4 linked regions of the Homo sapiens genome follow. The protein of the gene in region 1 interacts with the protein of each later gene in a pairwise test. Each region holds a gene or a part of one and is shown in the gene's direction. Other genes may lie near its edges.

Region 1 (7,024 bases):
TGATTTTGGAAAATCAGAATATTCTCTGTAGTTTCATAAAGTGGAACTGGGATAAATGGGTAGAAGTTTGGGGGAAGTAGATTTCAGTTTTGAGAAGCAAAACATCTCTGTCTAAACAATGGGATGGGATGTTTCACGAAGAAATGTGATTCCTGCCATTTGTCAGCCAGGGATCTGACAAGGGTGTTTGTGAGGTCATTTCTGCATTGATTGGAGATAGCACTAGATGACCTCTTAAATTTCTGTTTTAATCTCAAACTTCTGTTAATCCACTGGGAGCCCTCTCAATGGATTTTAGGTGTGATGCTATTTATGCTCCCAGGTAAAGCTCTTGGTGTTTCTCATTATTGCTTTATTTAAAAAATTTGGACTAGTATTTATTACGTTTTCTGTTTCTTTCTTCCTTTTTAAAATGACATACATAGCATGTATATAAAGTGTATGAACCATGTTAGGGCAATATATGTTTGTTACACATATATGAATAATTATAAAATAAATATTCATGTAACCATCACCCAAGTTTGGAAATAGATTTTCAGCATCTTAAAAGCTCTGCATATGCAGATTATAACTCCCTGTTTTCTGAGGGAGAAGTTTTTGGTTTCATGGTGGTATTACAATGCAGACTGTCCATTATGGTAATTATCAGCTGGCTTCAGATTTGATTTTCCTTCTCTCTATAAATGCTGTCATTCCCTCCCATCTTAGTGTTTTTCCTGTGTGTCCTGCCACACAGATTGGTCCTATCGAAGCAGTGAGCTAAACGACCTAAACTTTATGGTTACTTAAGGTGTGATGGTAACACAGTATATCTGTTTATGGAAAATTAAAAGAATAAACAGATTACTTTTTTCATCTACATTTCAAAACAAGTGTTTGATCACCAAAAATATGCTGACATAAGGGATTACTATTGTCTTTCCATTGTTTTTAAAAGAAGACTAAGAACAGTTATAATTATGTAAAATGAGGGCCACAGACATGCCCCTTTTCTTACAAAAAAGAATTTTTTAAAAATCTCACAGTAAAAGAGGTGGTTTATATTAGGGTCTTTCTTTAGACTTGAATTGTAGAGTCATAGGTCAGACCACTTTCTAGGAGCTGTTCAGTGATAAAATTAATAACAGTGACTTTTGAGTCAAAATAGATTTTTAAAGTACTTGATTTTCTCTTTGATTTGGAAACATCTTTGTTTAGCTTAATTGAAATGATCTAAAATATTTGAAGGATTTTATACTTTACACAGAGGCATGTATTTGGATAATTAGCTTTTATTAAACCCAGGCTTGGCTTTTAAGGTACAATATACAAATTGTTTTTGAGATGTTTAGTTTTTTCCTCTCTCAAAAGTTTAATAGCTGGGCACATTAGCTCACGCCTGTAATCCCAGCACTTTGGGAGCCCGAGGCAGGCGGATCACAAGGGCAGGAGACTGAGACCATCCTGGCCAACATGGTGAAACCCCATCTCTACTAAAAATACAAAAGTTAGCTGGGTGTGGTGGCGGGCGCCTGTAGTCCCAGCTACTCGGGAGGCTGAGGCAGGAGAATCGCTTGAACCTGGGAGGCGGAGCTTGCAGTGAGCCGAGATCGCACCACTGCACTCCAGCCTGGGCAACAGAGTGAGACTGTCTCAAAAAAAAAAAAAAAAAAAAAAATTTACTGGGTATCTGTTTCACTTTGTAGGTCATCAGAAGATTGAGAGAAAGAGGAGAACCAATCAGACTATTTGGAGAGACTGATTATGATGCTTTTCAACGTTTAAGGAAAATAGAGATCCTCACACCAGAAGTTAACAAGGTAAGAGGACAGAACAAAGCTAGAAAAATACCACTGTACTGCATTCACTAGAATAGAGTTTGACTAATTGCATTATTGTAGGCAACAATGGAAAAGTAAAGTGAGCAGATTATTGCTGCTGAATGGAAGTTTTCATTAATTTTTTGAAAAGCTCATATCTTAAGTATAACATTTAATGCATTTTGACAAATACATACAAGCATATAACCATTGCCCTTATAAAGAAATAGAACATTTTCGTCACCAAAGAAATTTCCCTGAGAGCATCAGGAAGAATAGCGAATGGATGCTGGGCTCAATAGCTGGGTGATGGGATGATCTGTGAAGTAAACCACCACGACACACGTTTCCCTATGTAACAAACCTGTCATCCTGCAGCTGTATCCCTGAACTTAAAAGTTGAAAAAAAAGAGAAAAAGGAAATTTCCCCAGTACCCCTTCTCAGCCTATCCTCATATTTCTCCTCATCCCTTCCTGGGCAGCCACCATTTGAATTTTGTCATCATGGATTAATTTTGCTTGTTCTTGTATTTCATACAGATGGACTCATAGATTGTGTGTCTGGCTTCTTTCGCTCAGCATATCAGTTTTTAGGTTCATCCATGTTATTGCAGATACCACTGGTTTCCTTTTCATTTTCCAGTGATACTCAGTTGTATGAATATATCAAAATTTGTTTCCAGCTTTGGGCTATTAGGAATAAAACTGCTGGCTGGGCGTGGTGGCACAAGCCTGTAATCCCAGCACTTTGGGAGGCTGAGGCAGGTGGATCACAAGGTGAAGAGATCGAGACCATCCTGGCCAACATGGTGAAACCCCGTCTCTACTAAAAATACAAAAATTAGCTGGGCGTAGTGGCGTGTGCCTGTATTCCCAGCTACTTGGGAGGCTGAGGCAAGAGAATCACTTGAATCCGGGAGGTGGAGGTTGCAGTGAGCTGAGATTGTGCCACTGCACTCCAGCCTGGCGACAGAGTGAGACTCCTTCTCAAAAAAAAAAAAAAAAAAAAAAAAACAGGGATAAAACTGCTATGACCATTCTTATGCAGATCTTTTTTTGGAACTATGTTATTTTTCTTGGGTAAATAAATAGGTCTCTTGGGGAGATACCTAGAAGTAGAATTGCTGGATAATAAGAGTAGATGTATGCTTAACTTCATAAGAAATGCCAGTCATTTCCAAACCCCAGCATGTGGTATTGTTAGTCTTTTTAATTTTAACCATTCTCTTTTGTGTCTGGTAGTAGCTCTTTGCGGCTTTAATCACATTACCTGATGACTAAAGATGAGGAGCATCTTTTCATAAAGTTGTGTTCATTTGTGTAGTGTCTGTTAAAGTCTTTCTTTCCTTATTTATTTATTTTTTTGACACAGAGTCTCACTCCGTCACCTACGCTGGAATGCGGTGGCATAATCATGGCTCATGGCAGCTGCAACCTCCTGGGCTTAAGCAGTCCTCCCACCTCAGCCTCTCAAGTAGCTGGGATTACAGGCGCTTTTTGTTCATTTTAAAAATAAACTTGTCTTTTTGTAAATGGATTATAGGAATTCTTTGTATATTCTGGATAGAAGTTCTTTGTCAGATATACGAATATTTTTTGTGACTATTTTCTTGTAGTTTAGGGCTTACCTGTTCTCTTAATTGAATCTTTTGCTGAACAGAAGTTTGTGTGTGTGTACACACACGCTTTTTGAGACAGGGTCTCACTCTCACCCAGGCTGGAGTTCAGCATGATCATGGCTAACTGCAACCTCTAGCTCCTGGGCTTAAGCGATCTCCCACCTCAGCCTTCCAAGTAGCTGAGACCACAGGTGTGTGCCACCATGCCTGGCTGATTTTTTAATTTTTGTAGAGATGAGGCCTCCTCATGTTGCCCAGGCTGATCTTGAACTCCTCTACTCAAGGGATCCTCCCGCCTTGGCCTCCCGAAGTGCCCGGGCCAGAAGTTTTATATTTTAATGAAGTCCAATTTATTGTTTTTTCCTTTTATGGTCATTGCTTTTTGTGTCCTGCTTAAGAAATCTTTGCCTATCCCAAGATTTCAAATATATATTCTTAATTTTCTTCTAGAAGCTTAATATTATAGTTTTTGCTTTACATTTAAGGCTCTGATCTTGTTTTATGGCTTAGCATATGGTTTATTCCATGGGCTCTTGAAAAGAGTATTGTTTTGCTTTCATGGTACAGTTCTACAAATGTCAGTGATGATAGTGTTGTTCAGATCTTCTTTGGCCTTGCTAACTTTTTATCTACTTGCTTTCTCAATTATTGAGAGACAGGTGTGGTTACCTATGACTATGTAACAGACTACTCCAAAACTTACTAGTGTTTGTTTATTTATTATAAAGGATTTATCATTACCAAATCTGTTTTTGGTGATTAACAAGCCACCCTGAAACTTGATAGCTTAAGATAATTTGTTATTGTCTTAATAATTACCAGTTCTGTGGTTTTATTGGGCTGGATTGAGCAGTATCTTGCTTGGGGTCTTTATTGTGATTGCAGTCAGATGAAGGCTGCGGCCGAAATCATGTGAGGCTGCCTCTGGACTGGTCTTCTAAGCTGATATCTTGCCCCTTTCCTGGCGTCTCAGTTGGAATGGCAGGAACAGCTGGGGCTGGCCAGGCCCGCTCCCCGACCTGCTCTGTCTGCTAGCCTGGGCTGTCTGACTGCTTTCTTTGTTGCCAAACCACTTTCCTGCTTTACTTCCCAGCATTGTCATTCCAGCCCCACAACACTAGCAGTTGCTTTCAGTCCTCTGTGTCTGTAATGATCATTTTTCCTTTGCTTGCTGTGTTTCTGCCTTGTATGCTCTGGTTGAAATCTTGTTTTTATACTTTCACATGCAATTCAGTGACCACATCTTCTCTCGGAATCTATTTTTGGTCCCAGTCAGAATTAATTGCTTCCTTCTCCATGTGCCTATGAGTAAACCTTTGTTAGTGTACTTACTGTTTTTCGCTATTATTAGAGTTATGTGCATATTTATCTCTTCCTGGTGGGCAAAGGCTGTTTTACCTTTGTATGCCAAGTCCTGTGCCGTGCATCTAGAGGTTTTGAGGACAAAGCACAGGAGCACAAGGTCTGGATTCCATTCCTGGATTATAGTAATCAATTATTTGGCCGTTGGCAAGTCTTTTACTCTATTTGAACCTTAGAATCTTCATTGGTAAAACAGAGGCAGTGATATTTGGCTCACTGGGATGCACTGAGAATTCGATGAGGTGACCTCTGGGAATGCCTGGCGTCATACTTTTTACACAGCAGGTGATCAGTCAGTGTTTGAGAAATTATAAGTGTTTTGAGTTGAATGTTTCTCTTCTGTGTTTATGAAGGGACAGGAGACAATGATCAGATGCTTTTTGTGTGAGAACGTTAGGAGTTAACATTGGTTGAATGTGCACCGTGCTCCAGTAACTGTTCAAAGCTCATCGTCCATTTCTTAGCTTACTTGCGTGACTTGATGTTTGCGAGGTTCTGGAACAGCTGCATCACATAGTAACTGTTCACTGAAATAAAAAATAGCATCCTTATTACAGCCCTACGTAGTAGATGGTGCCATTACTCCTATTCTGTAGGTGAGTCTACTGAGGCACACAGGGGTTAAGCAAGCTTTCAAAGAGCTATTTAATAGTATGTGGCAAGGATTTGAACCCAGATAGCTTTTACTCTCAACCATTACCCTATAGCCGCCTCACAGCCATGTTTCCTTGGCTCTTAAACCTTGCAGCTGATTCTCATTCATTTTTAGGAAGATGAGGCTTCCATTTTCATTAAAGGGTCATGAACCATATGTGCATAAAATGCGAATTTGCTGGTTTGCTAGAAACATAGTTGAGAACCTGGGATATAGATGAGGCACCAATTTTATTACACTGATGTTTCTGAATGTTTTGGGAGTTCACAGTAGTTGAGGTTAGACATTGTAAATGAGCTGGGCAAACGGGTTGGGGACTCTAATGGAGACCTGCCACTGTCACTAAGCCTCATTAGAAAATTACAGCATTGATGAAGATTCTTACTTGGATTTGTCACTCACGTGTATTTTATTTTTCTGACCAGCAGACTGGCCATTGTTTGTGCATTGTTTTAATTTAAATAGGTCCGTAAGAATTAACTTTAAATGGACAGTAGTGATAGTTGTGTGATAAATTGATGTGATTTGAGTCCCTACTTTTGCTGAACTCTTCTTGTGGGGGAAAAAATATTTGCAGTTATTAATGAAAAATCAAAGGTGAAAAAACAGGTGTTCTTCCTTTCATAACAGGTGTTCTTCCTTTTTTTGCTTTTCTTAGGGATTGAGGAATGATTTGAAAGCAGCCTTGGATAAGATTGATCAGCAGTACCTCAATGAAATCGTCGGCGGTCAGGAGCCTGGAGAGGAAGACACACAGAATGATCTGAAAGTTCATGAGGAAAACACCACAATTGAAGAGTTAGAGGTAATCTCTACACCAAGCCCAGCACATCCCTGGCACCCTTCTTTTTCCTCTGGAGCAGATGACTGAGTCGGGCAGATTGTTGAGGGCAGAGCACACTGTTGTCCTTGGTCTTTTGTTTATTTACTCCTCGCTTTTATTTATTTACTCCCCTTTTTCTCATCCTCCACTCACATTCCCCTACTTCCTGCCTTCAAAAGGAACCCATTCTAATATGTTGGATATGCATCTTTCTGTTTGTTGGTGCTCTTGTGACCTGCAGTGTTTTGTGAGCATGTATTTTTGATTTACATAAATGATGTTATGCTGTGAAATTCTTTATTCCGTGTTTTACTTTTCTTTTTTTCAGTTAGCACTATGTTTTTAAGAGCTATCCTTGATGCTCTGTGTACACTGAATCCTTTGCTTTTAATTGCTACATAGGATTCCATGTGTTACGCCATTCACTGCATTTGACTTTTTGTTCTCCGGTAATGATGGACAGCTAGATTGTTCCCAGCTCTCTCCTACCACAAACAGCTTCCTGATGAACAGTCTTGTGCATAACCACGATGGCCTAGCAAAGTGGGATTGTGGGATTTATATATGTATATTTAACTTGTCTAAGTACTGCCAAGTTACTCTCTGGAATGGCTGTCCTAGTCTACACCCAGCAGTGTGAGGGTCCCCTGTCTTTCCAGCCCTGCCAACGCTTGGCAATATCTTGCTGTCTGATTTTTGCTATAGTGCTGCTTTTGGAGTGTTAGTGTATAATCTTAATTAAAAAGCAATTTTGTATCATGTA
Region 2 (6,857 bases), on another chromosome or scaffold:
CCTGTAATCCCAGCACTTTGGGAGGCCAAGGCAGGAAGATTGCTTGGAGCCAGTAGTTTGAGACCAGCCTGAACAACATAGTGAGACCCTTGTCTCAACAAAGAAAAAAAAATTAGCCGGGCATGGTGGTGTGTGCCTGTATTCCCAACTACTAGGGAGGCTGAGGTGGGAGGATCGCTTGAGCCCAAGAGGTAGAAACTGCAGTGAGCCGTGATTGCACCTGGGTGACACAGCAAGTCCCTGTCTGCAAAAAAAAAAAAAAAAAAAGGACATTATTGGTACAATTGCAAAATTTGAATATGTATTTTAGATTAGAAAATAGTATTATAAGGCCGAGATGGGATTGCTTGAGGTCAGGAGTTCGAGGCCAGGCTGGGCAACATAATGAGACCCCATGTCTACAAAAAATAAAACAAATTAAAATAGCTGGGCATGGTGGCACATGCCTGTAGTCCCAACGACTTGGGAGGCTGAGGTGGGAGGATCACTTGAGCTCAGGAGGTGGAGGCTGCAGTGAGTCATGATCATGCCACTGCATTCTAGCCTGGGCAACATTGTGAGACCTTGTCTCAGAAAAAAGAAAACAGTATTGTATTAATATTAAATTTCTGATTTTGATTATTGCACTTCAGTTATATAAGAGACTGTCCTTATTCTTAGGAAATACACACTGAAGTATTTAGGAGTCAAGGGGCATGATATCTGCAACTTAACTCTAAAATGTAAAAGATATATATGGGGAGAATGACAAAATTAATGTGGTAAAATATAAAACAATTGGGGAATCTGAGGAAAGGATAAATGAGAGTTATTTGGACTGTTCTTGCAACTTTTTACTAGCTTGAAATTATTTCAATTTAAAAAGCAACAGGGAATTTTAAAAATGTTTGTAAGAACATGTAGGAGAATAACTGTTCTTTTGGAGTAGTATAAGATTTTTGAATTCACATACAAAACACCAAACAGGCCAGGTGCAGTGGCTCATGCCTGCAATCCCAGCACTTTGGGAGGCCAAGGTGGGTGGATCACTTGAGGCCAGGAGTTCGAGACCAGCCTGGCCAACAAGGTGAAACCCCGTCTCTACTAAAAATACAAAAATTAGCCAGGTGTGGTGGTGCATGCCTGTAATCCCAGCTACTCAGGAGGCTGAGGCAGGAGAATCACTTGAATCCAGGAGGCGGAGGTTGCAGTGAGCCTAGATCACATCATTGTACTCCAGTCTAGGTGAGAGAGTGAGATTCCATCTCAAAAAATAAAAAGTAGAATAAATCAAAAAACCCACCAACCATAACTGAAAGAATGATATATTTGAGTAAAGTAACAAATTTATGTACAATAAAGAACTCTATATAAGTGGAGTTAAAAGACAAACGACAATGAGAAAATATTTGCTATGCCTCGGATTAGTATCCAGAATATCTCTATATCTATCTATCTATCTAAAAAAAAAAAACTACAAATGACCGAAGAGAAAAATCTGCAAAGGATATGAATAGCTGAGTCACAGGAGAAAGTAACAACCATGGGAAAACATGACCAACTGCTTAGGGAGAATTAGGGAGAAACAAATTAAAATAACAATAGTATACCATTCACACTTATTCAGATGATTATCCAAAATTATATAATTTGGTAATACCTATTGTTGAAAGGATGAACGGGGAAGGGGACTTTCTTAATTGGTTTATCTGTCTGTAGATCATCTAGCAAAATCTAGTAAAGATGAAGCCATGCACTCAGATATGTACGTAATTCCATCTTTCAGTATGTGCCCTAGATCATTGCCAAAGGAACAGGCAGAGTCGCTCACTGCAGCATTGTTGGTAACTAGTGGAAAATTGGAAACAATCTAATTGTCATCAACAGATGAGAGCAGATAGTTAAACAATTTGTGGTATAATCATACAATGCGTTTAAAATTAATGAACACTACATGTGTCAATGTGTAGAAATCTCAATAACAGAATTTTATTATTATTATTTTCAAGACAGAGTCTTGCTCTGTTGCCCAGGCTGGAGTGCAGTGGAGCAATCTCAGCTCACTGCAACCTCAGCCTCCCCGGTTCAAACGATTCTCCTGCCTCAGCCTCCCAGTAGCATATTAATATTCTACTAATATTTTTAGTAGAAACGGGGTTTCACTATGTTGGCCAGGCTGGTCTCGACCTCCTGACCTCTTGATCCGCCTGCCTCGGCCTCCCAAAGTGCTGGGATTACAGGCATGAGCCACCGCGCCTGGCCTCAATAACAGAATCAGGCAAAAAAAGCAAGTAGCAGAAATTTAGAGTGTAAAATTTATAAACACAGAAGCAATAATGGATATTGTTGATGAATAAAAAAGGAGATACAGTCCCTGCCCTGGAGGTATTTGGGGGCATTTAAAGAAATGTCAAGTAAACAGGTAATTACAATGTAGTAGGATGAAAGCCACGATCAGAATAGACACCAAATACAGATGGAGGCGGCAGGAAGAAGGTGAAAGAATATATTGAAGAAATGGCAATACCTTCTATGCCCCACTCCCACGCTGGCCTCAAGTCCTGAAAGACAAGAAGGGGTTACTTATGTGAAAGATAGGAAGGAAGGGTGTTTCTAGACGATAGTGTTATTTGCAAAAGCCCCAAGAGGAGAAACCGCAGAGCCTGATTTAGAAACTGCCAGTGGTTTCTCAGAGCTGGAGTAGATGGAGGAGGGGGCAAAGAAAGGGATGGAGGGCATTGGTAGGTGCCCTCTGACAAAAGCTCCTCAGACCAGGCTATAAGGAGTTTCACCACCTTCTGAAGGCGGCGGGAAGGCTAGATTATTGAAGCAGAAGAGTAACAGCTGCACCATGAATTATAAAAACGACGGCTCTGGAGGCAAGATCAGTTAGTTTTTTGTGTGTGTTTGTTTTTCTTTTTAAAGAAGAAAACCAGGCAAGAAACAATGGGATCGCAGCTGAAATAGACGAGGTGGTGACTGAGAGAGAGCATCGAGTCCAACCTTTAGGGCTTCAGGGAGGGATTAGACGTAGGTGTCGGGAGAGGAGGTTCCTGGCCCGGCTATCTTGGGGTGAACGATGGAGTGACAGGGGTTGCGATTTGTGACACCTGACTCCGCCCCGGCCACCCCTGATTGGGCCTTACAAACGTTTAGTTCAAATACAAAAATGGGCCGGACACGGTGGCTCATACCTGTAATCCCAGCACTTTGGGAGGCAGAGGCGGGAGGGCTGCTTGAGCCCAGGAGTTCGAGATCGGCCTGGGCAACATAGTGAGACCTTGTCTTAAAACAACAAACAAACAAACAAACAACAAATATAAAAATATCCAGAAGAAAAACTGAAGGCGGTGGTTACCATTACAACGCGTTTTCGTCAGGGTATATGTGGCTTTAGATTCATCTTGAACGTTTTAATTACAAAATAAAAGCTGATGTCTATGCAACATAGGAAAATATCGACTTGTGTAACATCTCAGTGAGCACACGGGCGTCATATTACTTTCTGTACTTTGCTGTGTGTTTGAACCACATAGCAAAAAACTGTTGGCGACAAGAATTGGAAAAGCAAGAAAGTACAAGAAAGGCTTTGAGTTCTATAAGGGGGTTAAACCAGAAAGCGGCGGGGGCAGGGAACAGTCAATCTTTGTGTGTGCACACTGCGTGTGCAGAGAGAAGACTCCTCAGGAGACCAGGACCTGGCTGAGTGTGTGCGGGGATGAAGCGGGTGGAGGGGAACTGGGGCTGGGGAGGAGGTACGCGCCGCGGAGGTGTCCCCCGCCCCCCACGATCCTTCTCGCCAACCCCCCGCCCCTCCTCCCTCCGTGACGCCGCTTCCCGTCTCCAGGCAACGTGGGGGCCAAACAACACGGCCGGGAGGCGCCGCTGCCTGCCGGGCCCTCTCTTCTGGGACCCTGGATTTTCGGACACTGAGCGCCATGGCCCTGCCTCTGCTGCCGGGCAACAGCTTCAACCGCAACGTGAGTAGGAAGGGCGTCCGAGGTCACAGCTCCCGGCTGGAGTCTGGGGTCCAGGCAGGGTCGTGGCGTGGCCACCTCCGCAGACTCTCCTGGAGGCCCCATGCTGCTGCCCTGGGTTGGTGGCAACTTGGACCAAACTTTATAGGCTGCTTCTCCCATCTCTCCAGCTGCATCTGAATGTTTTTCCTAATTTAGAAATATATAGAGAGAGTCCTTATAGGTGGCAGGACCCTCAAAGGTAACAAATAATAGTGACGATAACCATTGGGGGTTTAATGTGTGCCAGGCGCTGTGCTTTAATCACCTTATGCAGCATCCAGTGTCCCAACAGCCCTTTGAATTAGGTAGTTTTTATTCCCAGTTACTATTGAGGAAACTGAGGCACAGAACCACACAGTCTCAGTGGTGAAGCTGGGTTTCTTTCAAGCAACCTTGTCTCCACAGCTCAGGAGCCTAATCATTATCCCCAGTATCCTGTGTGAAAAAAGATACCGTTTCAATTATCAAATTGAAGAAATCTGGCACTTATCAAGAGGGGTAGGTGGCAGATAAGAGTTCTATCAGCCTGTAAAGTTTACTCCCAAACTTTATAGAGACAGGCACCCAAACTTGGAGGGATTTTTTTTTTCTCTATTTATAATTGGGAGGGGTTCATTTCTTTTTTTTTTTTTGAGACGGAGTCTCGCTCTGTCGCCCAGGCTGGAGTGCAGTGACCCGATCTCGGCTCACTGCAACCTCCACCTCCCAGGTTCAAGCGATTCTCCTGCCTCAGCCTCCCGAGTAGCTGGGATTACAGGCGCCCGCCACCACACCGGCTAATTTTTGTATTTTTAGTAAAGATGGGGTTTCACCATGTTGGCCAGGCTGGCCTCGGACTCCTGACCTCAAGTGATCTGCCCGCCTCGGTCTCCCAAAGTGCTGGGATTACAGGCTGAGCCACTGCGCCTGTCCTGGAGGGGTTCATTTCAAAAGAAGATGAACGTACAGAACAAAGCAACACAACACAAAAAACCCTGAGCATGAAAGAACTTTTGCCAATAAATAGCACCTCATTTAAACGACAGCAGGAAAATGATTCAGGCTTTTGTTTATACTGGTTACTACCCTTCACTTGGGTCAGCCATCTGTGTCTGCAGGAGAAGCTAATTCCCAATTAGATGGGAGGGAATTAGATGGAGCCACTCAAGGCAATTGTGTAAACCTTTGATAACTTTAGAAAGCAGGCAGCAGATTGAAGTATTTGGCTTTATGGTTTCCAAACACTGTCTGTATCTAAGTTGTTGGCCCTGAAGTACAAGTTTTTTCTTTGTAGCTTCACGCCATTGAATTCTGACCCCTACACGTCTGGTCAGTCCAACTTTGAACACTGATTTGTGCATTTCTTGGTTGATGGGCAGAGGCTGGCCTTCCAGCATAGCATTGCCCTTTGGTAAGTTTAAGCCAGTCACGCAAACAAGAAAGGCCCCTGAGAGACGGGACATGAAAACAGATTCCAGAAGTAAAGAAGCATGCTGTGTAAAAGTAATTTTAATAAAAAATGAAAGTAAAGCCTACAGCTTTTTGCCCAGCAACACTCTGATTACCAGTGCCTGCCTCCTGCAGAAGTATCATAGCTCTCACGTGCAGTGATTAAGGATGGGAAGGAAAAACAGTGGATGGATGAAATATTAATAAATCTGCAAGGTTCTGCGTATATTTTTGCTTTTTAAAAAACTTTAAGATCATGAAGTACAACACATATACAGAAAGATGCACAATGGATGATCACAAAATGAATATCAAGAAATTAAATATGGGGGCTGGGCGCAGTGGCTCACGCCTGTAATCCCAGCACTTTGGGAAGCAGAGATGGGAGGATCCCTTGAGCCCAGGAGTTCGAGACCAGCCTGGGCAATATAGTAAGACCTCATCTCTACAAAAGATTGAAAAAATTAGCCAAGCGTGGTGGCACATGCCTGTAGTCCCAGCTACTCAGGAGGCTGAGGTGGGAGAATCATTTGAGCCTGGGAGGTCGAGGCTGCAGTGAGCCATGATTGCATTACTGCACTCCAGCCTGGGCAACAGAGCCAGACCCTGTCTCAAAAAAATAAATAAAATAAAATATGACCTGTTCTCCAAAAATACCACCCTTGACTGGGGTTGCCAGATTTAGCGAATAAAAATACATATCTCAAATACTGCATGGAACCTGTTTATGGGAAAGGATTATTTATTGTTTACCAAATTTAACTGAGAATCTTGTATTTTATGTGACAACTCTACCTATGAACCTTTCTGTTCATTACCCCATCTCTACTCTCCAGATATAACCACTGTTCTGGCTCCTATCACTATAATTAGGTTTTGCTTGCCTTTGAACCTTTTATCAATGGAAATGTTTGGTGTTTATTCTTTTGTGACTGGCTTTTTTAGCTCAACAGTATGTTCGTTAGATTTGTCCATGTGGCTGTCTATAGAGGTAGTTTGTACATTTTTATTACTCTGTAGTATTGCATTGTATGTTTTTCACATCATTTATATATACATTTTACTCTTGATAAATATTTGGCTTGTTTGGGGTTGTTAAGAATAGTTTTACTGTGACTATTTTTGTTCATGTTTTTTGGTAGGATTGCTAGATCATACAGTATTCGTATGTTCAGCTGTAGTAGATGCTGTCAAAGTGATTATACTACTTAAATTCCCAACAGCATTTTATGTTCCTGTTGCTCCACATTCTTTCTAACACTTGGTATTGTTAGTCTTTTAAATTTTAGATATTTTGGTTGGTGGGTATAGCAACTCTTTGTAGTTATAATCTGTACTTCCTGATTCCTAATGAAATTGAGCATGTTTTACACGTTTGTTGGTCATTTGTATGACCATTTATTGGTCACTGCTTTTTTTTTTAGACGGAGT
Region 3 (7,024 bases), on another chromosome or scaffold:
TCCAGGCTTGAAATAAATGTCTGCTCTTTTCAATGTCTGTGGCTTGGCTGAATTCAAACCAGCTAATATGGAAAAGGTTGATTTGAGGTTGAGCCACAGTGAATAATCGTGCGTTTCTGGGCATCTAATCTTTACTTACCTGTGTCTCTTCATCCTGCTCACCTTTCTTTTACCTTGATTTAGAGGGAAAAAAAATTGTCTGTGTGTAGATACATATGTATGTATACATGTATTTATTTTGCTTTATTCCATTTTGTAATTTCAAAGCTGCCTCGAATGGTCTTTGCAAGGAAGTGATGTAGGGTGTGAATTTCATAGGAAAATTGGGGTTTCAACAGGCCTTTTTTCTATGTTGCCCCGGCTGGAGTGCAGTGGCTATTCACAGGTGCAATTATGGCATGCTGCAGCCTCAAACTGCTGGGCTCAAGTAATTCTCCTGCCTTAGCCTCCTGAGTATAGTAGCTGGGACTATAGGCACATGCTACTGGCTCAGCAACAACAGGCCTTCTTATTTGCAACCAACTCGAGTTTTTTGTACCCGAGACATACCCCTCATAGCTGCAGGAAATCTTTGCTCTATGTATAGTTTCTCTAAAGCGTGAAGCAGATTGATGAGTTAAATAGAAACTCACCAGTGTTTCTGATGGAGTAGAGGCGAGCGTTTCTTCTCCCTGGCCAATATTTGATTTTTGATTGGCCTTGTACTTTATCTGGCTCATTTAGGAATGCTTCTGAATATGCAGAGCAAAATTACTGAGTTGCTCTTTATCCTTTCGTTGACTGTCAGACCTACATTTTTCCTCAGATTGCATTATTTGATGCTTACATTGCATTTTTTTTTTCTTTTGAGATGGAGTTTTGCTCTTTTTTCCCAGGCTGGAGTGCAATGGCGTGATCTTGGCTCACTGCAAACTCCGCCTCCCGTGTTCAAGCGATTCTCCTGCCTCAGCCTCCCAAGTGGCTGGGATTACAGGTGTGCACCACCATGCCCAGCTAATTTTGTATTTTTAGTAGAAATGGGGTTTCCCGGTGTTGGTCAGGCTGGTCTTAAACTCCTGACCTCATGTGATCCACCCGCCTCTGTCTCCCAAAGTGCTGGGATTACAGGCGTGAGCCACGACTCTTGGCCATGTGCAGTTTGAATGGTAGAAAAGTAATTTCTCCAAAGAGCAGAATTTTGGATCTCTTGAAAACGTGTCTTTTTTTTTTTTTTCCTGTAGTGCCCTCCCCACCTCTTAGGTGGCTATCTTCTTGTCATTCAGGTCTCAGAGCTTAAATTATAGCACCTCCCAAGCCACCACTCCATCAGAGGAGCTACCATGCCCTTCTGTACATCACCTTGTTAAATTTTTCACATAGTGAGCATTTAGTATATTTTTATTGTTTACACATTTGATGTTTTTCCTGTCTTCCTCCCCTAGAAAGTGGTCTCCTCGACAACACGCAGTGCTAGCTGCCGCAGCCTTAGTGCTTGTGCCCAAAGCACAGTCACAGCTGCTCAGTAAAGAATTTTTGAATAATTGTGTAAGTGATTTTTTCAGGTTATGAAGGCATTCTGCATAGACTGAAAGCTCTCTGATTGAAGGTTAAAATATTAGTTTGAGTGAATAAATAGGTGACTTGCTCCGTTGGATACTTCTGCCTGTTCTGGAATTTCATATAAATGCAGTCATAGTGCATGTACTCTTTAGCACTTTTTTCACTCAGCATAATCATTTTGAGACTCATCCAAGTTATAGTACATATGAATAGGTTTTGCTTTTCGTTTTTATTGTGGAGTAACATTTAAGTAAATGGGTAAGAATATACCCCAGTTTATCATTTTACCTCATGAGTCATGCCAGATTTCTTATGCTCACTATTTACATAGTTTTTCTTTTCCCATCCTTATGCCTTTATCCTGTGTCTTTATATTTAAGATATATCTCGTTTAGATAGTGCATAATTGGGTCTTGCTTTATCCTGTCTGGCAGTCTGCTCCTCCTAATTAGGTTGCTTCCTTTTTTTTTTTTTTTTTTTTTTTGAGAGACGTAGTCTCGCTCTGTTGCCGAGGCTGAGTGCAATGGCATGATCTTGGCTCACTGCAACCTACACAATTCTCCTGCCTCAGCCTCCCGAGTAGCTGAGACTACAGGTATGTGCCACCACGCCCGGCTAATTTTTTGTATTTTTTTCAGTAGAGATGGGGTTTCACCATGTTAGCTAGGATGGTCTTGATCTCCTGACCTCGTGGTCTGCCTGCCTCGGCTTCCCACAGTGCTGGAATTACAGGCATGAGCCACCGCGCCCGGCCTCTCCTTTTATATTTAACGTAATTGTTGAGGTAGTTGGGTTTAAGTCTACCTTCGTGCTCCTTGTTTTCCATTTGTACCGTCTGGCTTTTGTTCTTTTCTTGTTCCTTTACTTACTTTCTTTCTTTTTTTTTTTTTTAGATGGAGTTTTGTTCTAGTCACCTAGGCTGGAGTGCAATGGTGCAATCTCGGCTCACTGCAACCTCCGCCTCCCGGGTTCAAGCGATTCTTGTGTCTCAGCTTCCCGAGAAGCTGGGATTACAGGCGCCCATCACCACGCCCAGCTACTTTTTCATTTTCAGTAGAGACAGGGTTTCACCATGTTGGCCAGGCTGGTCTTGAACTCCTGACCTCAGGAGATTTGCCTGCCTCGGCCTCCCAAAGTGCTGGAATTACAGGCTGAGTCACCACGCCTGGTCTCCTTTACTTTCTTTGGGGTTAATCTCATCGCGTTTTAGGTTTCCATGTTTATGTTCTCTATTTATCTCGTTTAGATAGTGCATAATTGGGTCTCATTTGTTTCTTAGCAAAGCTGCCCTAATGGTTTGTGGTATGTGAGTGTAGATGCATGGACAGCTCAGGGTGTTTACTAGGGCCCTTCTACTTGGTGGGATGCAGCCTGGGCCTAGATCTTTAGGTCTTGATGGGGAAAGTTACTTCTGACCACTTGTTTGTTCAGCGTTCTTTTCTTTTTCCTCCTGATCTGTTTCTTGTGGGAAGCTCAAGTGTTCAAAAAGCCCATTTTCCAGTTAAATAGGCTGTTGCTTTGTTACTTATCTTCATTAGTCTTAGGATTATGATATATATCTGGAGGAATGTATATTATTGTTTAATTGTTACTGTTACCTGAATGCCCTGGATAAGTACAAGCCAACTCCAGCTAATAAGCTTAATGTTTTCTCAAAGTTGAGTTGATTGTAAGCATCTCCCGTGGAAATCTTGTTAATGGTAGTTTACATGCTCCCTCACCGTAATTCTGAGCTTGCATGCTGGTGGCTCTAAAGCCCTGGAGATAAGTGGCTTTTGTGGAGAGCCAGGCTGCAGAAAAAGGAGGATGAAGTCTTTGGGATGTGGGGAGCAGGAATATGGATTATTCAGAGACATCCTTCTCTGCTCTCCACTGCCCTTCCAGCCTACACCTAGGGGACAGAATCTCAGAGAATTGTTTCCAACGTATTATTCATGTCTTGCATTTGCTCAGCCAGATGTTGCCTTTCTAGGGCAGTGATTTTGGGACTCCATTTTCTTATTCAAAAGAGGATTTTCCTTTTAAGCTTCATTCTACTTCCACAGAGCTATTTTTAGAAGAAGATAAACTAAGCAATCTTTTCTGTGTTTGCTCTTTTTTAGTCGAGCAAAAGATGTGATAATACCAGCAAAGCCACCTGTCAGCTTTTTCTCCTTGAGGTCTCCAGTCCTTGACCTCTTCCAGGGGCAGCTGGATTATGCAGAGTACGTTCGACGGGATTCAGAGGTGGTACTGCTCTTCTTCTATGCCCCTTGGTGTGGACAGTCCATCGCTGCCAGGGCAGAAATTGAGCAAGCAGCAAGTCGGCTTTCAGATCAGGTAATGCTCACATTCAGCTTAAGAATCAAATGACTGTCAGTCCTATATGTAGGGCAGGATGTCCCCACAGAGACACCTTGCCCAACGGGCAGACTTTGCCAAGGTGAACTCCAGGAGTCGTTTCTAAGTTACAGAGCTTTCTATAAAGCAACAGAAAGGATTTCCAATTGTGGCGATTGTACTCCAAGGCAAGTGTGGGAGCAGATTCTGAATCTCATAACACAAGCCAATGCTTATCCTGGGGTGCCATACTGTTTGGTTTCAGCATTGAAAAAGGTAGAGGGACTGAAAATCCTAGTTCTTGCATATCCATTTGATACTTGCTAGTTAGGTATTTTAGGTAAGAAAATGTATGTATGATATGACTGCATTGTAACAAGGCCGACCTTTTTAATATATGGACCAGAACTATATTCAGCAGATAAGGAATGCCACCTTTGGGCTAGGTAAGAAAGATATATAGGCAAATAAGTCACCTGTTATGGCAGTGGTTTTCAGCCCAGTGGACCCCAGTTGTGCTTTAGAAAATAAGTATTTTATGATGTCCCTTTTTCTTCCTAAAAAGGAATTCATAGATGATAAAGTTTTCCTATACATGTAATTTCAAAATAATCTAATGCACGGATTGTAACATAGAGGTGAGGGGGGAAGAAAGTAATTTGTAACTAAATGATATATATTTTAGTATGTAAGTGCACAGTCAGAACAGGTCCATATACCTTTATGTAGAATCACTGAATGGGATAGTTACAAACGTAGACTGATAAAGGTGATATGTTGGTGACTTACCTGCCACATGGACATTGCTCTTAGTAATTGATTATCCTAAATGGTGAACAGTCTTGGTAAAATCCTGAACTATGCAAAGCCCTTTCTGCTCTCAGTTTACATAGAAGTTGCATTCCTGAAAAATTCAGTGAACACAAAAAGCATGCTTTAGATTCACATGTAAAATGGAGCTAGGTACTGGGCTTTGATAATAACAGGTTTTCCCCAACATCAGTGTTTGGCAGGCGTTTTGAACTCCTCTGGAATGCTATGGACGACTCTTCCGTGTGCAAAGCAGGTTTGAGTGTAGCAGGACATCTACCAACACCCCTGCCCTACGTATGCACTGTAGCTTCCCCCAGTCATTGTAGCAAGCCAAAAGCATCCCACAGATTTCTAAGACTCTCCTGCTCAGAACCACTGATGTGAAGTAACGTGTGTAGGCAGCTGAGTTCCAGAAGTTCATTTGGAACTGTCATTTGGTTTTTCTTAGAAACTGTGGAGCCTTCCAAATTTAGAGAACAAAGTTCACGTTGCCCATGTTGGGCACAAGAGGGATATCTATTGTGTTTTATTAATAAGTGTGAATTAGCTACCTTACTGTCAGCCTAAGCAGTATGTCCTTCTGAGTGATGGCATTAGTATAATAATAATGATATTCTGGTGTGCCAGGCCCCATGCCAATTCTCAACCACTTTGCAAGGCGATGCTGTCAGCCCTGTTTTTCTGAAGCAGGACTGCAGGCATAAGGGGTGAAGCAGTTTGTTTACCATCACGTAGTGGTGGGGGTTGTAGTGCAATCCAGGGACTGCTGCTTTTTTTAAAAAAAAAATTTCAGCTCCTTCCAAATTGAGAGCTTACTATTCCATGTACTCAGTAGGGAAAAAAGTGGGTTTATTTTTGGAAACACACAGAAATCTTTTGAACTGTATTGCATGGTAAGATTGGTAAACACGGTCCAAGTCCTGCCTGGACATCATAGATAAGAGTATGTCTTTCTTTTTTGTTTTAGTGATAAATTATGACCTTTGAAAACTCAAAACAGTTTTTTTCATAGTTTCTGTTTCAGTGAGAGAGGAATCATTCTATTTTTAAATTTCATCTTTTAAATCTTGGTAACTTTTCAGTTGTTATTCATAGTCATTTGAAAACCTTTTTTGGCTCTGCAGGTGTTGTTTGTGGCAATTAACTGTTGGTGGAACCAGGGGAAATGCAGAAAACAGAAACACTTCTTTTATTTTCCTGTAATATATCTGTATCATCGGAGGTAAGAACTTTTTAAATAGCGTCTCTCATTCCAGTTTAGTTTGCCAGTTTATAAATGAATTTTGCATTTTTTCTATATTAAAGTATTAGATATTCACTATAGAAAATTCAGATAATACAGATAAGCAAAAATTAAAAAAGAAAGATCTGGATAATCCACCCCCCTTTTTAAAGCTAAACATGGGATCAGGCAGTAATACTATTTCCTAAACTGCTTTTCTCACTTTTTTGAGCATCTTTTCATGTCATTACACATTTTACAGCATTGTTTTTAAAAGTACGAATTACTCCAATGCATTTCAGATATCGTAAGAGTGTTTTGTAAAAATACACAAAATTTCTTATCGTTTCATCTGGAGGCATAGCAGAGTCCAGAGTGTATCTTACCATCTATTCTATTGGGAAGAAAATTACTACAAGTACACAGTCCCATGTCCACAATTCTTTTTTTTTTTTGAGACGGAGTCTCACTCTGTTGCCCAGGCTGGAGTGCAGTGGCGCGATCTCCGCTCACTGCAAGCTCGGCCTCCCGGATTCACGCCATTCTCCTGCCTCAGCCTCCCAAGTAGTTGGGACTACAGGCACCCACCTCCCTGCCCAGCTAATTTTTTTTGTATTTTTAGTAGAGACAGGGTTTTACCGCCCATGTCCACAATTCTAAAGTCACAAAGAGGGCTGAAAAACGGAAAGAGTTTTATTTTATCTTATTTTATTTTATTTTATTTTGAGACAGAGTTTAGCTTTTGTTGCCCAGGCTGGAGTGCAGTGGTGCAATCTCGGCTCACTGCAGCCTCCGCCTCAGGGTTCAAGCCGTTCTCCTGCCTCAGCCTCCCGAGTAGCTGGGATTACAGGTGCCTGCCACCACGCCCGGCTAATTTTTGTATTCTTAGTAGAGACGGGGTTTTACCATGTTGCCAGGCTGGTCTCGACCTAGGCTGTACTAGAGTACAGCCCAGACCCTGCTGTGAATGATAAGTAATGTCTAAAAATCTGACTCAAAGAGTTTTGGAGATAGGAGATAGGACTTTGGACTTTGTTCAGGGTGATTGGCTTGAAGTTTGTTGAAAGTAAAATGGGTAAAGGAGATTTGATCAGTAGAGAGCTTTCCTTTTTCCTTCTAAAGTTCTTGGGC
Region 4 (7,888 bases), on another chromosome or scaffold:
TCAAGTGATCCATCCACCTCGGCCTCCCAAAGTGCTGAGATTACAAGTGTGAGCCACTGCACTGGCCTTGGTCATTTATTAAACTGCACAATTTTCCTACTTAGGAAAAGCACCATGTGGAACTCAGTCCACACATCTAAAACAACAACAATACTGATATAAGACGTATCTGCCTGACACCATTTCAAGCAGTTTATAGATGTATTAACACATTTTTTTTTTCCTTTCTTTGGAGACAGAGTCTCGCTGTGTCACCCAGGCTGGAGTGCAGTGGTGGGTTCTCGGCGCACTGCAACTTCCACCTCCTGGGTTCAAGCGATTCTCCTGCCTCAGCTTCCCAAGTAGCTGGGATTACAGGCACGTGCCACCATGCCTGGCTAATTTTTATATTTTTAGTAGAGACGAGGTTTTACCATGTTGGCCAGGCTGGTCTCGAGCTCCTGACCTCAAGTGATCCGCCCACCTCGGCCTTCCAAAGTGCTGGGATTACAGGGGTGAGCCACTGCGTCTGACCTCATTTTAAAATTTTTGTAGAGACGGGTTTCACTGTGTTGCCTAGGCTGGTCTTGAAATCCTGGCCTCAAGCGATCCTCCTGCCTTGGCCTCTCAAAATGCTTGATTACAGGCATGAGTCACCATGCCCAGCTAATTACTTTTCATTGTCTGTGATTACTATTTGGATTCTAGTAAGGTCAGAAAAGTAAAAACTTTTTTCTCTGTAAAAGGTCAGAAGGTATTTTAGGCTTTGTGAGTCATATGTGGTCCCTACTGCATAGTCTTCTTTTTTAACCTTTAAAAATGTAAAAAACATTCTTGGGTTGTGGGCCATTGATAAACTAGGCTAGGCCGGGCGCAGTGGCTCACGTCTGTAATCCCAGCACTTTGGAAGGCCGAGGTGGGCAGATCACTTGAGGTCAGGAGTTTGAGACTAGCCTGGCCAACATGGCAAAACCCTGTCTCTACTAAAAATATAAAAATTAGCCTGGCATAGCCAGGTGCAGTGGCTCATGCCTATAATCCCACCACTTTGGGAGGCCGAGGCGGGCAGATCACGAGGTCAGGAAATCGAGACCATCCTGGCCACCATGGTGAAACCCCATCTCTACTATAAATACAGGTGGGTGTGGTAGCAGATGTCTGTAGTCCCAGCTACTCAGTCGGGAGGCTAAGGCAGGAGAATCACTTGAACCTGGGAGGCGGAGGTTGCAGTGAGCCAAGATCACGCTAGTGCACTCTAGCCTGGGCAACAGAGCGAGACTCCGTGTCAAAAAATAAATAAATAAATAAAAATAAAAATTAGCCAGGCGTGGTGGCACGTGCCTGTAATCCCAGCTACTCGGGAGGCTGAGGCAGGGGAATGGCTTGAACCCGGGAGGCGGAGGTTGCAATGAGCTGAGATCGTGCCACTGCACTCCAGCCTGGGCAACAAGGGCGAGACTACATCTCAAAAAACAAACAAACAAGCAAACAAACAAAAAAAGGCTGTGAGCCCCACAGGCTATAGTTTGCCAACTCTTGCGAAGGTCACCAATTTTGCATGTTTTGTTTCCTGATGCATTTCCAGTTCTTGAAAACGGTGCCTGACACATAGCAGACACTGGATATACTATGGCTCATTTGAATGAATAAAAGGAGTGTAAGAAGTTAAAACAGAGACCAGGATGCTACTTATTTCTGGCACAGAGTATGGATCATACCATAATTATCTATTACTCATCACAGCAACCCCTGTAAAACTAATTTTCTCAGTTGACAGACAAGGAAACTGGGGCTCAAAGAGGCTAAGTCACTCACTCAAGGTCACAGAGTGAGAATGTGACAGAGCCAGAATTTGACCCCAGGCAGGCTTGTCCCAGAGCTAGGCTGTGATGCCCAGAACCTACCGGGCATCTGCTTGGCTCGGCTGTACCAGGTGGGCCACGTCATTGAGCTGGACATTCCGGCGTATGAGATCCACAGCCCGGGTGGAGGCATCGTTTGCAACCACAGATCTGAGCCCAGGCACCTCTAGGGCAAATCGAATGGAACGTAGGCCTGAAGCTGCCAGGCCTTCCAGCACATGCAGGCCTTCCTGTTGGAGTAAGCAGAAAACCTCCCTCACATCTCCACCTCCATCCTCTTCTGGGCCCCAAGGAGCCCCCACCACCCACCTCCTATAGCTCTCCCCCTCCAGGAGCCCTCTGTCTCCCGCTAAATTCCAGGGCTGCCAGCTCCTATGCTCAGGCCCCACCTCACAGATCTCCCCCACGGCCGCTGTGCGAGGTTGGTCTCCTGAGGCCAGGTTTTCACTCTCTTTCAGTTCAACCTTTTCCTCCTCTTGCTCTGACAAGTCCACGACCACTTTTTGCGTGTCCTTCTCTCCTGGAACCTTGACTGCAGCCACCCAGAGGCACAAGTCAGAGAATAACAAGGTCCCCTCTGAGAAACCTCCCCTTAATCTCCAAAATATCGTCCCTGAAATCCCTGCGGAAAGGCTGAAGGAGCAGAACCCAGGGCCTGCTATGTGGCTGAAGCCCCTCTGGATTTGGGCGGCAGAAGAGCCCAGGCAGGGAGATAAACTTGTGTGACCCCCGCCCACCAGAAGCCTGGACCTCCACTCACTCTGGATTCCTTTGGCCCCAAGCTGAATGCGAGCAAACTCGGTGATCACAGCACATCTGGTGGGAGACAGAGGACTAGCTCATACCCCGCCCCCGCCATCCACACTGACCCACTAGCCGATGCCAGGCTAACGTCTGACCCCTGCTCACGTCAGGTCCCGATTGAATTCCTGCACCGGGTTATAAAAGACCTCGTTGGCACTGGGAAAGGCGATTTTGGCAGCCCCCTCGGTGACTGTCGTCTCCTGGACTTCACGTGGACGTTCTTCTCCGTAGGGCCCGGTGCCGTTCTCCATCGCTGCTGTATTCGGCAGCCCTGGAGACTGCCACTCGAAAAACCGGGCTCTAGAGAGCACCCGGGCGGAGCGGAAAGTGAGGCTTAGCCACAGAGACGATCCTTGCATGAGACATCCGCTGGCGCCTCCGCCCGCCAAGCCTGGTTCGGGGGGCGGGGGAGGGCACAGAGAGGGTCAGAGAGCCGCATTCCGGGCCCGGGGATGTCCTACATATCTATGAGGTAGGGACTAGGAAAACCTGCGGCCTCGGTAAGCTGATATCCCCTCGTTTTGGGGATGACTGGTCCCTGTGGAGCCGATGCCCTCGTGCAGGCCCGCCCCGAGTCCGAATCCCTCCCCGCGCTGCCTAGCCCGTCCTCACCTGCTCTCGTAGCCACAGAAAACCGAATTAGTCAAGGTGCACGTTTCCCGAATTAGGACCTGGGCGCCGCCATGTTGGCACAGTGGGTGGGCGAATCACATGATAGTGGTTGGCCAGTCAATGAGGAAACGTACGGTGGGCGGCCGGGATCAAAATGAAAGCCATAAAGGAAGCGCGCTGATCGTGCTGTTCCGGGGGTGTTAATCACAGTGGATCCCCTGGGAGAGGACACGTCCCTAGTCCCATTTCACAGATGAGGAAGTTGTGGCTCAGAAAAGGGGCGGTAAGCGGAGAAACCCAACACTTATTGGTCCTCTTCTGTGTTCTGGGTGCTATATACACATTATTTCAGAGCACCCTGCAGGAATGACTCAGGCTCTGGAGTTGGATTTACCGGGTTTGAATCTCAGTCCCATCACATGCTCTGGGCAGGTTACTCCCGCGGCTTCACTTTTCTTACCTATTAAATGAGAATCGTGGTTTCTCAGATAGAGCAAAGATTAAATGACAGATTCCTGGAAAGTGTGCAAAGAACCACTCTAACATTGTAAGCGCTCGGTAAAGTTCTAACCAGTGTATGAAGGCAGGACAGCGAAGTGGTCCCGGCTACCTGGGTTCCAGTCTCAGCTCGCCCTGCGACTTGTTAACTCTGAACTTAAGTTACCGCTTTTGCAAAATGGGCAGAACTTTTTTTTACCATTTGTTACTGGGTTGTAGTGAGAAGTAAACGAGTTAGTGCAGGTAAAATGCTAACAGAACCTAGCATCCGGTAAGCATCATAAAAGTCTTAGGTCTTATTGTCGCTTTTGAGCCTGTGTTTAAATCCTGGCACCTACCATCACTTCCTTGCTGTGTGATGATCTTGACCAGCTTTCTTCATTTCTCTGTGCCTCCTTTTCTTTCTTTCTTTCTTTTTTTTTTTTTTTTGAGACGGAGTCTCGCCCAGGCTGGAGTGCAGTGGCATGATCTCGGCTCACTGCAACCACCGCCTCCCGGGTGCAAGCGATTCTTCTGCCTCAGTCTCCCGAGTAGCTGGGATTACAAGCGCATGCCATCACGCCCGGCTAATTTTTGTATTTTTAGTAGAGACAGAGTTTCACCATATTGGCCAGGCTGGTTTCGAACTCCTGACCTCAGGCGATCCACCCACCTCGGTCTCCCAAAGTGCTGGGATTACAGGCGTGAGACACCGCGCCCAGCTGCCTTTATTTTCTATAGTGTGTCTGTAGCAGTTCTCACTAAAAAATGTTACTGTGTAGTTTAAACGAGCTAATTCCCATAAAGAATGTAACGCAGTGCCTGCCACAATAAACAGCAGTCATTATTGTTTTTGTTTTACAGGAAACTAAAGTTCGGAAAGGTAGAGCGACTTGCCCAAGGTCGCGGGACTAGAAGGTGGCGGGGCCAGGATTCGAACCATCGAGCTGAGCCGACGTACTGGCGAGGATCCCCCAGGGGCATAGAGAGGAGACGGAGCCGGTTAGAAGGGGCGCGCTCGGAGCTCGGCTGGCCTCGCCTGGAGGGCGGGGCCCGAGGGCGGTGCGCGGGCGGGGCCGGGGCCGCTCCTCCCTGGCCTGGCTGCGGCGGCAGCGCGGCTTGCGCTCGCTCGGCGCTCGGCTGGGGCGGCCTGGCCCACAATGAATGGCCGCCGCGGCTGCCGCTGCTGCTGAGGCGGAGGCCGCGGAGGCCGCGGAGGCGGAGGCCGAGGCCCCGGCGCAGCGGGGCGCGCCCCGGGCCCAGGCCCGGCCCCAGCCGCCGCTGCGGAGCCCGCCGGGACCCCCCGGAGCGCGGCCACGGCGCAGGTGAGGCGGCCCGCCTCAGGCCCGGTTCCGGCCTCCTCCAGCCGGGGCGGCCCGAGGGCTGAGTGGGGAGGGCCTGGGTGCTTTCTCGGACCGAGGAGGAGCCGGGCCCGCAGCCTGCACTGTGCCCGGGCAGGCGAGTGTGTGGAGGCCCAGCTACCGCGGGCGGCCTTGAGCGTCCAGCCCGAGCTTCAGGGCTTGGGGGCGGCAGGATCGTACCTGGACCGCTCCCCCGTCTCCCAGCGAGGGAGGGGGCCAGGTCGGGCCGGGGCAGGTACCGGGGATCCGGGGAAGTTGGAGGGTCCGAGGCGGAAAAGTGAGGAGGTTCTCGTGGATGCCGGAGGGGGAGGGGGAGGGGGAGGAGGAGTCGGGCTCCGGCCAGGCCGAGTGGGGGAGGAGAGGAGAGCGGCGCGGCCGGAGGGGGGCGGGGAGGGGCCGGGCCTGCAGGTACCGCCTGGGCGCTGGAGGAGGTGGGTGGGTCAAGTTACAGGCCTGGGGGCGGCTGAGGAGAAGCCCAGGAAGTGGGGCACGGCGGGTGTGGGCGGAGTTACTTCGTGTGGGGGCGGATAGGAGATCCCAGAGATGTTTTCCGGGGGTCACATGAGGTCAGGACTCAGATGTGGGGAGGGGGAGGCTAGATGTGGGGGCGATCAGGTAAGGTGAGGGACTGCTGTAGGAGTTTTGGGAGTCGAGAGAGCAGAGCCTTTTGGGCTAGGCTAGGGGGGATGTGGGGGCAGGTCAGGAAAAGCTGGTGTGACCAGAAGGTATATACTAAGATGCGCCCCCCACCGCCCCCAACTCAAGTGTTAAGGGGTTCCGTCTTTCTCACACCTCATCCCTGAAGCCTCTAGAGTCCTGACCCTACCCCTTGGGCAAGCCTCTGCCAACTGTTCAAAGGCACTGGCCAGTGGGTGTTTGTGTGGGCAGCTGGAGACAGTCTGGAACACCTAGCTTAGGCATCTTGTTTATCACAAGGTGGCCCTTGCCCACCCCCACCTTATATATCTACAGGGAGGCAGCCCAGCAGACGTTACCTGGGTATTTTAGGATCCTGCATTCTTTCTCTACCTTTTGTGGCCAGAAGCTGGTGGTTCAAGCCTAGTGGATGGGACCTCACAGCAACCATCGTATATATTAGTACCATGGCCTCCCAGGCACCAACTCCTTGAGCCTGAGTTCTGTGTGCCATCTCCCTGGGGGTGAAGAATTAGAGGGAATGAGCATGTAAAACTCTGTTGATGGTGGTTTGGAGGCTCCCGACGGGGTGAAGGCAGGGCACAGAGAAGAGTTAAGGGGATCAAATCAGGCACTCACACCCTGGCCCAGGGATCTACCTCTGGGACACTCGTCCTGGGCCAGGCCCTGTGCCGAGCTCGCTGGTCGGATGAGCTCATTGATGGCTCACCACCACCAGTTCAACTTAGGCCTTCTCTGGGGTCCAGACGAGGAAGCTGAGGCTCGGGGTGGTGTGGCTTGTCTCAGATCACATGAGCAGACAGTGGCTGAACTGGGATTGTCTGACCCTCAGCCCAAACCCATAGTCACTCAAGTGGCCTTCCAGGAGGGTGACTGAAGGAGCTCCTCGTTCTGGATTCCCTGGCGGGCGTTCTCCTCCGTCCAGGCCTTCCCTTCTGCTCACCCCGGGGGATGGGTCAATCCCCTTTGGGACAGACTGAGTTTCCATGGTGTCCCCGGGGAATGGAACAGTGGAGGTATCTTTCTCGGAGGCCTGGTCACCCCTTCTTCCCCATTTCCCTCCTGGGAGCCAAGAGGTCAGGAGTCATGGAACTGTGGGCTGACCGTGGGAAGCTGAGGAGGCCTGGCACCACCAGGGCTGGACTTGACTTTGCTTGCCTAGACTGTTTTTGCCCCACTTTGGCCCCCAGTCGGATGGCAGCAGCTTTTGTTCCTTTCTGGGCTAATTGCAAGGCTGTTACCAGGGTGTCCTTGGGACTTTGATTTGGGATCTTCAGCACCTGAGGCAGGAGCCACAAACTGCTGGGTCAAGTGGTGTCAGCCAGTTCTGGGTTTAATGATGGGTTGTCACCCTAATTCTCCCCAGTCTCCCTATAGTTCCCAGGACACCCTCCAACCTGGGCCCTGCCCTTCTTGCCTGTCTGGCTAGCCACTTGGTTCTAGGAGGAGTAGGAACTGGGCCAGCAGTCCCGCAAAGAGACTGAACCATCCTTCCTGGCTGGTTGGGCCAGGATTGCTGCAGGTCTGCTTCAGCACAGACTGGGTCCTCCTGGACCTAAGCTGGGTTGGATACCAGGGATAGGGGATTGGTGGTACCATCCAGTCACTTAGCTGAGACTGTTGGGAGTTGGCCCTGGTGAGTGGGGGACAGGCAGTGCCTCAGGCAGCTCCGGTTTGTGCCTAGAGGTAGAGGAGAAGGCACCAGTAATAACTGCTTTTCGGTGAGAACTTAGCATGCACAGACTCTGTGGGGGCAAGTGCAACAAGTAGGCAGCCCGTTGAGACAGTTTTATTTCACTGCTGGGTGCTGACTCCCCGCTGGGGGCTGGGGAAGCATCCCGGAGTAACAGATCCAGAGCAGCTAGCTCTCAAGCGACCAAACTTTCACAAGCAAAGGATCAAGATAATTTCACATACTTCTGTGTTTACAAAGATGGTGTAGCAAAGTGAAGTCATTATGAGCCATGAGGGGATGGGGAGGTTTCGATGGGTGGCCGGAAGTGTTCCCGGAGAGCTAAGATCTGAATAATAATGTTAGCTAAGGGGTGGGTGGTGCTGGGGCGCAGGGAGGGGTCAGTGTTCTAGGCTCAGGGGACAGCACATTCACAGCTTTTCTTGAGTATGTACCAGTCTTCT

Evidence for each region.
Region 2: the proteins of PRPF18 (region 1) and EFHC2 interact in binary tests that used the Homo sapiens proteins (3 or more experiments, as listed by UniProt).
Region 3: the proteins of PRPF18 (region 1) and TXNDC11 interact in binary tests that used the Homo sapiens proteins (3 or more experiments, as listed by UniProt).
Region 4: the proteins of PRPF18 (region 1) and NACC1 interact in binary tests that used the Homo sapiens proteins (3 or more experiments, as listed by UniProt).

Annotation. Positions count from the first base shown.
Region 1 is NC_000010.11:13,603,943-13,610,966, forward strand, and holds part of PRPF18 (pre-mRNA-splicing factor 18), read left to right. Parts: intron 1-1,688; coding exon 1,689-1,802; intron 1,803-6,096; coding exon 6,097-6,243; intron 6,244-7,024.
Region 2 is NC_000023.11:44,340,649-44,347,505, reverse strand, and holds the start of EFHC2 (EF-hand domain-containing family member C2), read left to right. Parts: upstream 1-3,833; 5' UTR 3,834-3,917; coding exon 3,918-3,959; intron 3,960-6,857. UniProt on the Homo sapiens protein: Microtubule inner protein (MIP) part of the dynein-decorated doublet microtubules (DMTs) in cilia axoneme, which is required for motile cilia beating.
Region 3 is NC_000016.10:11,732,851-11,739,874, reverse strand, and holds part of TXNDC11 (thioredoxin domain-containing protein 11), read left to right. Parts: intron 1-3,641; coding exon 3,642-3,858; intron 3,859-5,795; coding exon 5,796-5,893; intron 5,894-7,024. UniProt on the Homo sapiens protein: May act as a redox regulator involved in DUOX proteins folding. The interaction with DUOX1 and DUOX2 suggest that it belongs to a multiprotein complex constituting the thyroid H(2)O(2) generating system.
Region 4 is NC_000019.10:13,113,396-13,121,283, forward strand, and holds the start of NACC1 (nucleus accumbens-associated protein 1), read left to right. Parts: upstream 1-4,868; 5' UTR 4,869-5,059; exon of another isoform or gene 5,060-5,330; intron 5,331-7,888. Other genes in the region: TRMT1 (tRNA (guanine(26)-N(2))-dimethyltransferase), read right to left, coding at 1,884-2,071, 2,231-2,373, 2,602-2,657, 2,751-3,004. UniProt on the Homo sapiens protein: Functions as a transcriptional repressor. Seems to function as a transcriptional corepressor in neuronal cells through recruitment of HDAC3 and HDAC4. Contributes to tumor progression, and tumor cell proliferation and survival.